Linked DNA regions of Homo sapiens. The protein of the gene in region 2 interacts with the protein of the main gene of each other region in a pairwise test. Each region holds a gene or a part of one and is shown on either strand. Other genes may lie near its edges. The genes, in order: CD53 and CD302.

The links.
Region 1: the proteins of CD302 (region 2) and CD53 interact in binary tests that used the Homo sapiens proteins (3 or more experiments, as listed by UniProt).

What each region holds. Positions count from the first base shown.
Region 1 is NC_000001.11:110,876,148-110,879,647, reverse strand, and holds part of CD53 (leukocyte surface antigen CD53), read right to left. Parts: exon of another isoform or gene 2,014-3,500; coding exon of another isoform or gene 1,963-2,013; intron 1-1,962. UniProt on the Homo sapiens protein: Structural component of specialized membrane microdomains known as tetraspanin-enriched microdomains (TERMs), which act as platforms for receptor clustering and signaling.
Region 2 is NC_000002.12:159,791,425-159,795,462, forward strand, and holds part of CD302 (CD302 antigen isoform 1 precursor), read right to left. Parts: exon of another isoform or gene 3,766-4,038; intron 1-3,765.

The DNA.
Region 1 (3,500 bases), on a different chromosome or scaffold from region 2:
CAGCTTTGGTGCTACATAGACCATTACGCTTATGAGATATTAGTAAGTGCTCCTCAAACAAAAGCCAAGATAAAGAAAAAAAAACAGTGTAAGAGAAAAACCTGTTATATGCTAATGTGCACTGTGAGTCTCTAAGACAAAAATATGTTTATATAACTACAAACCTAGTTTTATGTTGCAGATCACTTATTAACAGGTCAAATAACATAGTATTCTGTGGAACACAGTTTGATAAACACTAGCTTTGGAATCAGACAGGTCTAGTTTTGAATTCTGTTAGTGCTACTTATCAGAAGTGTGACCTTGGGCAACTTGCTTAACCTGTCTTTCACTATATCTTTGAAATAGGGTTATTAATACTTACCTCAGAGGTTGTTCTGAGGGCTAAATGAGATACTATTTCCAGGATGGCTCAGTCCCTGTGTATCTGCCTTATTCAGTGAAAACTCACTGAAAGATCAAGTTCAGACCTTACCTACCAGTCCATTCCTAAGGGTAACCCTTAGCTTCTAACAGATTTTTAGGAATAAAACATACACGGGGCAAGAATAATCCCTTGCTTGTTTCATACGTTTTAAAAAGAGGTTTCGTGTGCCATTTGTAAAAAAAATAAAAAAACAAAAAGAAATCAAACAATAAAGAAAAGCACATGTTTTTTTTCCATTTGTACCTATTAGAACAAATTGAAAATGTTAAATTTCAGTAATAAAAGATAAATAAATAAATGCAAGTACAGTTTCTGTAAGACTTCCTTTCAGTGAAGAAAAGCGTTTAATAGAAAAACACCTTTGTATGCTAAGATTGAGAATACGTTATTAGAACACATTTCTTTCTCCACTGAACTCTGTTAAGACATGTTGGAAAATCCCAGCAATAAAAGGCAAATGTAAGCACAGTTTCTTTAAGATGCATAAATTGTTTTCTTTCAGTGAATGGAAGTGTTTGGTAGAGAAACACCTTTGTAAGCTAAGATTGAGAATATATATTATTAGAACACATTTCTTACTCCATTCAAACCTATTAGAAAAAGTTGAAAAATCCAGCAATAGAAAGCAAATGTAAGCATGCTTTCTTTAAAAAAAAATTCTACATTTAAAAAATAAAGAAAAGTATAAAGAAGAAAGCATAAAATCTTCTGAAATCCCACCTCCCAGAGATAACCATCATTAGCATTTTGGCAAACGTCTTTCCAGACACTTCTCCATATACATTTCTCTATATACAGATTGTCAATTTACATACAAGAGCATTCGCAAGGTAATTACGGCTCCCTATCCCTTCCTACACAGAGCCTGTGGCAGTCTTTGTTCCTTAGCAAAGACAATTGAGGCTGTGATTAAGAAAAAGTTTTTCTAAATAGGAGCGAAAATCTGCCCCAGTGAGGGCTCCCAAATGTAGGCCTTGCTCAAACAAACTGAGATACATAATAGATAGTTCACTGAATCCCACAAAATAACTAAGTTCCTCATAAATGTCTTATTTATAATCCTCAAATCGGCCTGACAACTTAGGTGTCATTAGCCCCATTCTGCAAATAGAGAAGCCGAGGACTGGCACAAGGTCACCCAGCTAAGAATCATCAAAGGCAGGGTGAAGGCCAAGTTCTTTCAGCCTCCAAAGCCCATGCTCTTTCCACCGTCCCAGGCTCTGGTTTTGTGCCTATTACTTCCCAACTCATTTGGTGCAATGTGTTGAGCATCCAGGAGAAGACCTTCCATTTTTCATCAGCTCGTTTGAACTCCTGTGAGCAGTGGCTGAGGTGCAATCAAAGTTATCGCTGTACGTCCTTTTGAAGAGTAATAAGCAGTTGTAGAGGAAGAAGTAGGGGTAAAATAAAACGAAGCCAAAGCATCAACTCTCATGTATTCGTGTCCATTCATCTCTCCATCAACTAATCAAGGAATATCTGTTATCTTATTCCTTCCTAAAATTGTAATCTGATAAAAATTTTGTTTCTTCTAGGTCGCTGTTAGGGGAGAGGATTTGGCGATTTATAGAAGAAGAGAGAAATAAGGAAGAAGAAAAGAGGAGAGAAAAAGTGAAGAAAGACAAATCCAGATGATCTTGGAAGCTCACTTCCTCCCATGTGGGAGCTTAGCAAGATACTAATAACAGCTGAGGTGGGACAGGGACTCTTCTAATAAGCTTACTTCGTAAATCAGGAACAGTTACCTAAAACAGTTAGCACTGTTACAGAGTCAAGAGACCAGAGGTTCTCCGTCCTCCTAGGTAGAAATATGCAGAACTTTACATACGGGGTCCCTCGGCTAGAGGCCTGTCCATGGTGTCTGCAGGCTGGCTATGCTCAGATTAAGCAAGACTCTTTGTGGGATAAGAAAAGCCACTTTGTTGGTATTCCTATCAAAAATTTAAATAACCTGAATCTAATCATGAGGAAACATCAGATAAACCCAAATGGAGAAACATTCTAAAAAAGAACTGACCTTACTCTTCAAGAATATCAATGGCAAGAAAAATTCAGGAAGTGTTCCAGACTAAAGGAGACAAAAGTGACAGTTGAAGGCAATGCGTGACTAGAAATTTCCTTTTGCTATAAAGAATATTAAAGAGGTAATTGGTGGAATCTGAATAAAGTACATAGATTGTTAATTATATTGCATAAGTGTTAATTTCCTGGTTTTGATCATTGTAAAGTAGTTATATAAGAGAATGCATTTGTTTGTAGAAATATACACTAACATTCTTAGGGGAAAGGGCATCAATCAAATTACTAATTACTGTCAAATGAGAGAGCCAGAGAATAAACAAATGAAGTAAAATGTTAATATTTTGGAAATCTGGGTGAAAAGGATTTAGAAATTTTTCATAATATTTTTTCAACCTTTTTATCAGTCTGAATTTTGTCATTTTTTTAAAGGGATGGGAAATAAATAAATGATCTAAGGGATTCTCATCTCAAAATCATTACAATTTGTCTTCTATGTTATAAATACTGAGATTCTACAATAGTTATTTTAAGAAGACTAAACTATGGAATAATTCTTGAATGCCTTTATTTGCTCCTGATATAAGGTAAGCCATAAGTTCAAATTTACTTTAACAAGTAAACTTTAACAAGTTTTAAAAGATATGAGGCATTAAAATCATTTCTTACCCCTATTCCTCAATCTAGTTCTCCTGAAATAGAAAAGGCCAAACAAAAAGGTTTGGAAAATAAAATATATGTTAAGTATTTAGTTTGCTAGCATAGTAGCTTAAGATCAATTACATTTACAATTAAGTGGTATTTTTATGTTTGCTTATGTTAAAATGCACTAGGAATTTATGTAAATGAAGAATACAGTCTAATGATGCTTACTTAATAAAAAATCTCTTAGAAAAGGGACTATAGTATAATGTAGAAGAAAGAGCATGCCATAGAGAATCAGAAGACATTCTGAATAACTATTAAGTAATTTTATGATTTTTGGACAAGTCATTTTACCTGAAAAGTAAGCAGATTGGACAGTTGCGACAGCTCCTATTTATTGGCTCTCATT
Region 2 (4,038 bases):
AACTATGGGTAGTCATTCTTCTTTGGAAAAGGAAATGTGTTACCCTCTGATGGCCTATACATGTTTACATAGCACTCATTAGATCCTTCTTTATATAGCGGCTATCTGATATGCATCCTGTTTTCCCAAATGATTGTTAACGCCACGACAGCAGAGACCATGTCTGAGATCTAACTACTCTCAATAATAACTATCCTTCTGTCTTGAACATAACACTGGAAGGGATGCATAGAAGTGGGTCAATACAGGACTCTGGTTAAGCCCATTAGACTGTGGAGAAAAGTCTGGCTCTGACTACACAATCGTGGACATGTTATTTAACCTTACTGTGTCCCAGTTTCCTCATCTGTATAATGGGAATAACAGTACCTATCTGAGGGGGTGCTGTTAAAAAATTGTGCAAGGTGCTTGAGATTCCACAGTGAACAAAAAGGAAAAGAAATTCCTGCCCTCCTGGAAATTTATGTTCTAGTTGACGCAGTTATGCAAAAGGAAGACAAATACATAAAATAATATGTTAGATGGTGTATTGTGGTCTATTGCTATGTAAAAAATTAGCAGCTTAAAACAAGAAACACTTATTATATACAGTTTCTCTGGGTCAGGAATTCTGAAGCAGTTGCTTGTCTGGGTGATTCTGGCTTGGGGTCTCCATGAAGTTACAGTGAAGATGCTGGCTAGGGCTGCAGCCATCTAAACACTGAACTGGAGCTGAAAGGTCAGCTTCAAGAAGCCTCACTCATATGGGTGGTGAGCTGGTGCTGGCTGTGGGCAGGACACCACAGTTCCTCACCACGTGGACTTCTACACAGGGGTGCTTGAGGGTCCTTATGACATGGCAGGTAGCTTCCCCCAGAGTGAGTGATTCAAAGGAGGGCAAAGGTGGATATGCAATGCTTCATACAATCCAGCCTTGATTGTCACACTGTCTTATTTCCATACTATCTTATTGGTTATTGTATTAGTCAGGGTTCTCCAGAGAAACAGAGAACCAACTCTGTGTGTGTGTGTGTGTGTGTGTGTGTGTGTGTGTGTGTGTGTGTCTGAAAAGATAGGGAAAGAAGTCACATGGATATTTCAGGCAAACAGAGGGAGGAGCAAACACAATGCTACTGTGTTGCACAGTATGGGAATGACTATGATGATGATAATGATAACCAGCTACTCAAAGACCATTGCTGAATAACTAAGTTAGCAATACAGAAATGGTCCCGAACTTAATAATGGACAACTTACGATTTTTTGACTTCACAAGTTTATTGGGATATAGCCCCATTCTAAGTCGAGGAGCATCTGCATGTGACAAGACCAAAAAAAAATTTTTTTTTAACAGGGTATGTATAGAAAAATAGAAAACAGACTGTTGACTCACTTCCCCAAAACTTTCAACTGCCTTCTCCTTAGGCTCATTTCAGCATTAGCAGTAACTCCAGTTAATTCAACATGGAACCCCTTTTCTCATGCTATAGATCCCCGATCAGAGTGTGTGCCCCAGAAACAAGTTTTAAGCACTACTCAAAAGATATATTTTTACTTTGAGAAGAACAGTGCTCAAATAGAGGCTGGATAACTCCTGTGAGGAGATTGTTGACGTTCATGCACCTCATGAACAAAAGACTAAACTAAGTCGTCTTCAACGCTAAGTATCTTTGCCATAATCCTAATATAATTAAAAACCTGCCCACTAAGCTCTCTGCAAAGGGCCTATTACTCTTATTTCTTCACAGCAGTCCTGAATGATAGGTTGTTATTAATAATGCACTTAAATGACTCTTAGGGATTTTATAATTTTATAATTCTTTAATACGTACAGAAATTCAGGAGCCTCATGAATATTTTAAAAGCTGTACTTAGCATAACTCCAAAAGTTTCTATATAGATCCTCTGCCTAAAATTATCATGTGCTAAAAGAAGATAATGTCATATCCACAGGAATACTTTGCATTACCAGTCAAATCTAATAGAACTCTCTGTTCCTTTATAAGTTCTCTGTCTCTCTTTTTTTTAAAAAAAGAAAAAAAAAACAGGCACAGCATGAGGAAGTGATTCTTGGGACATACTTGTTCTAAATGTTAACAAAGGAAAAGGGAAAGACTTCTTTTTCATTTTCATTGTCAATAATAAGACCTTTGCTCCTCTCCCATTAAGATATGAGTTGTAGTCACATAACTTCCGCAAGGGCAACTGTGGCACAGACAGATGAAGAAGAGGGGCTATTTATTACATTTATAATGTATGGAGGAGGGAGTGGCTGTTCCAAGTCCCTGACTAATCCAGAGATTCTGTGGCTGTACTCTGAGCTTCAAGATCTCTCTGAATCCCAAATAAATTGAGGCACTCTGACACCTCATCCCCTCTCCATATCACTCTTCCCAATCTAGCTTTCAAGACATCCATCTCCATATTGTCCCATCACTTCCCTCTTCAGAAGGGCTGTTATAATGTATATTCATAGAAGGGGTGTGCCATTGTTAATCTGTACCTTTCTCTTTGGGCATCACTGGTCTATTTTTTAAAGATTTGGTCTCAAGATTTGCTCTCAAAATCTAAAATAGGCCAGGCGTGGCAGTTCACACCTGTAATCCCAGAGCTTTGGAAGGCTGAGGTAGGAGGATCACTTGAGCTCAGGAGTTTGGGACTAGCCTGGGCAACAAAGTGAGACCCCACCTCTACAAAAAAAAAAAAAAAAAATTAGCAGGGCATGGTGGCATGCACCTGTAGTCCCAGCTACTCAGGGGGCTGAGGTGGGAGGATCACTTGAGCCCAGCAGGTCAAGGCTGTAGTGAGCCATGATTGCACCACTGCACTCTAGCCTGGGTGACAGAGTGAGGCCCTGTCTCAAAACAATAAAATAAAATAAAATAAAATAAAATAAAATAATAAAAAAAAAAACACTAAATAACCCACAGAAGGAATGAAATACTTGATATGCACAATAAAAATTATGGAAAGTAACCTTGCTGCAAAACTAGTTTTCAACACATAAGCAAATTGTTAAAAGATTCTCAACAGTAAAAGAAGTCCTGAAATAATACCTAATTGAAATTTCACTTTTTCATTGGAAGAAAAATAAACATTAACATTTCAAAATTAATTAATTTATTTATTTATTTATTTATTTATTTATTCATTTATTTATTTTGAGACTGAGTCTCGCTCTGTCGCCCAGGCTGGAGTGCAGTGGCGCGATCTCAGCTCACTGCAAGCTCTGTCTCCTGGGTTCACGCCATTCTCCTGCCTCAGCCTCCTGAGTAGCTGGGACCACAGGTGCCTGCCACCACGCCCGGCTAATTTTTTGTATTTTTAGTAGAGACAGGGTTTCACCGTGTTAGCCAGGATGGTCTCGATCTCCTGACCTCGTGATCCACCCGCCTCGGCCTCCCAAAGTGCTGGGATTACAGGCGTGAGCCACCACGCCCAGCTCAAAATTTATTTTAAAATACTCTAATATTTAATCTGAGATAATTTCCCCTGAAACATAACTGTGCCATACACAAGAGTCAGAAAAGGTGGCATCAGGCCGGGCACGGTGGCTCACACCTGTAATCCCAGCACTTTGGGAGGCCGAGGTGGGCAGATCACGAGGCCAGGAGTTTGAGACCAGCCTGGCCAACATGGTGAAACCCCATCTCTACTAAAAATACAAAAGTTAGCCAGGCATGGTGGCGCATGCCTGTAATCCCAGCTACTCGGGAGGCTGAGGCAGGAGAATTGCTTGAACCCAGAAGGTAGAGGTTGCTGTGAGCCGAGATTGCGCCACCGCACTCCAGCCTGGGTGACAGAGTGAGACTCCATCTCGGAAAAAAAAAAAAAGAAAGAAAGAAAAGGTGGCAGCAATAGATTAAGATGATTTAAGGCTTTGAATTCATTATGAAATGAGTGCATAGCAGAGGTAATATAATTTGAAAAAAATTGCAATCCACTTATCCTACCTACTTTTTAAATAACTCACCTAAATTTTTTCATCCTTTTATTATAACTTAGAATAAAGTGCAGAGACACAAATCAAAACAAAACAAAAATCCACAAGATGGTAAA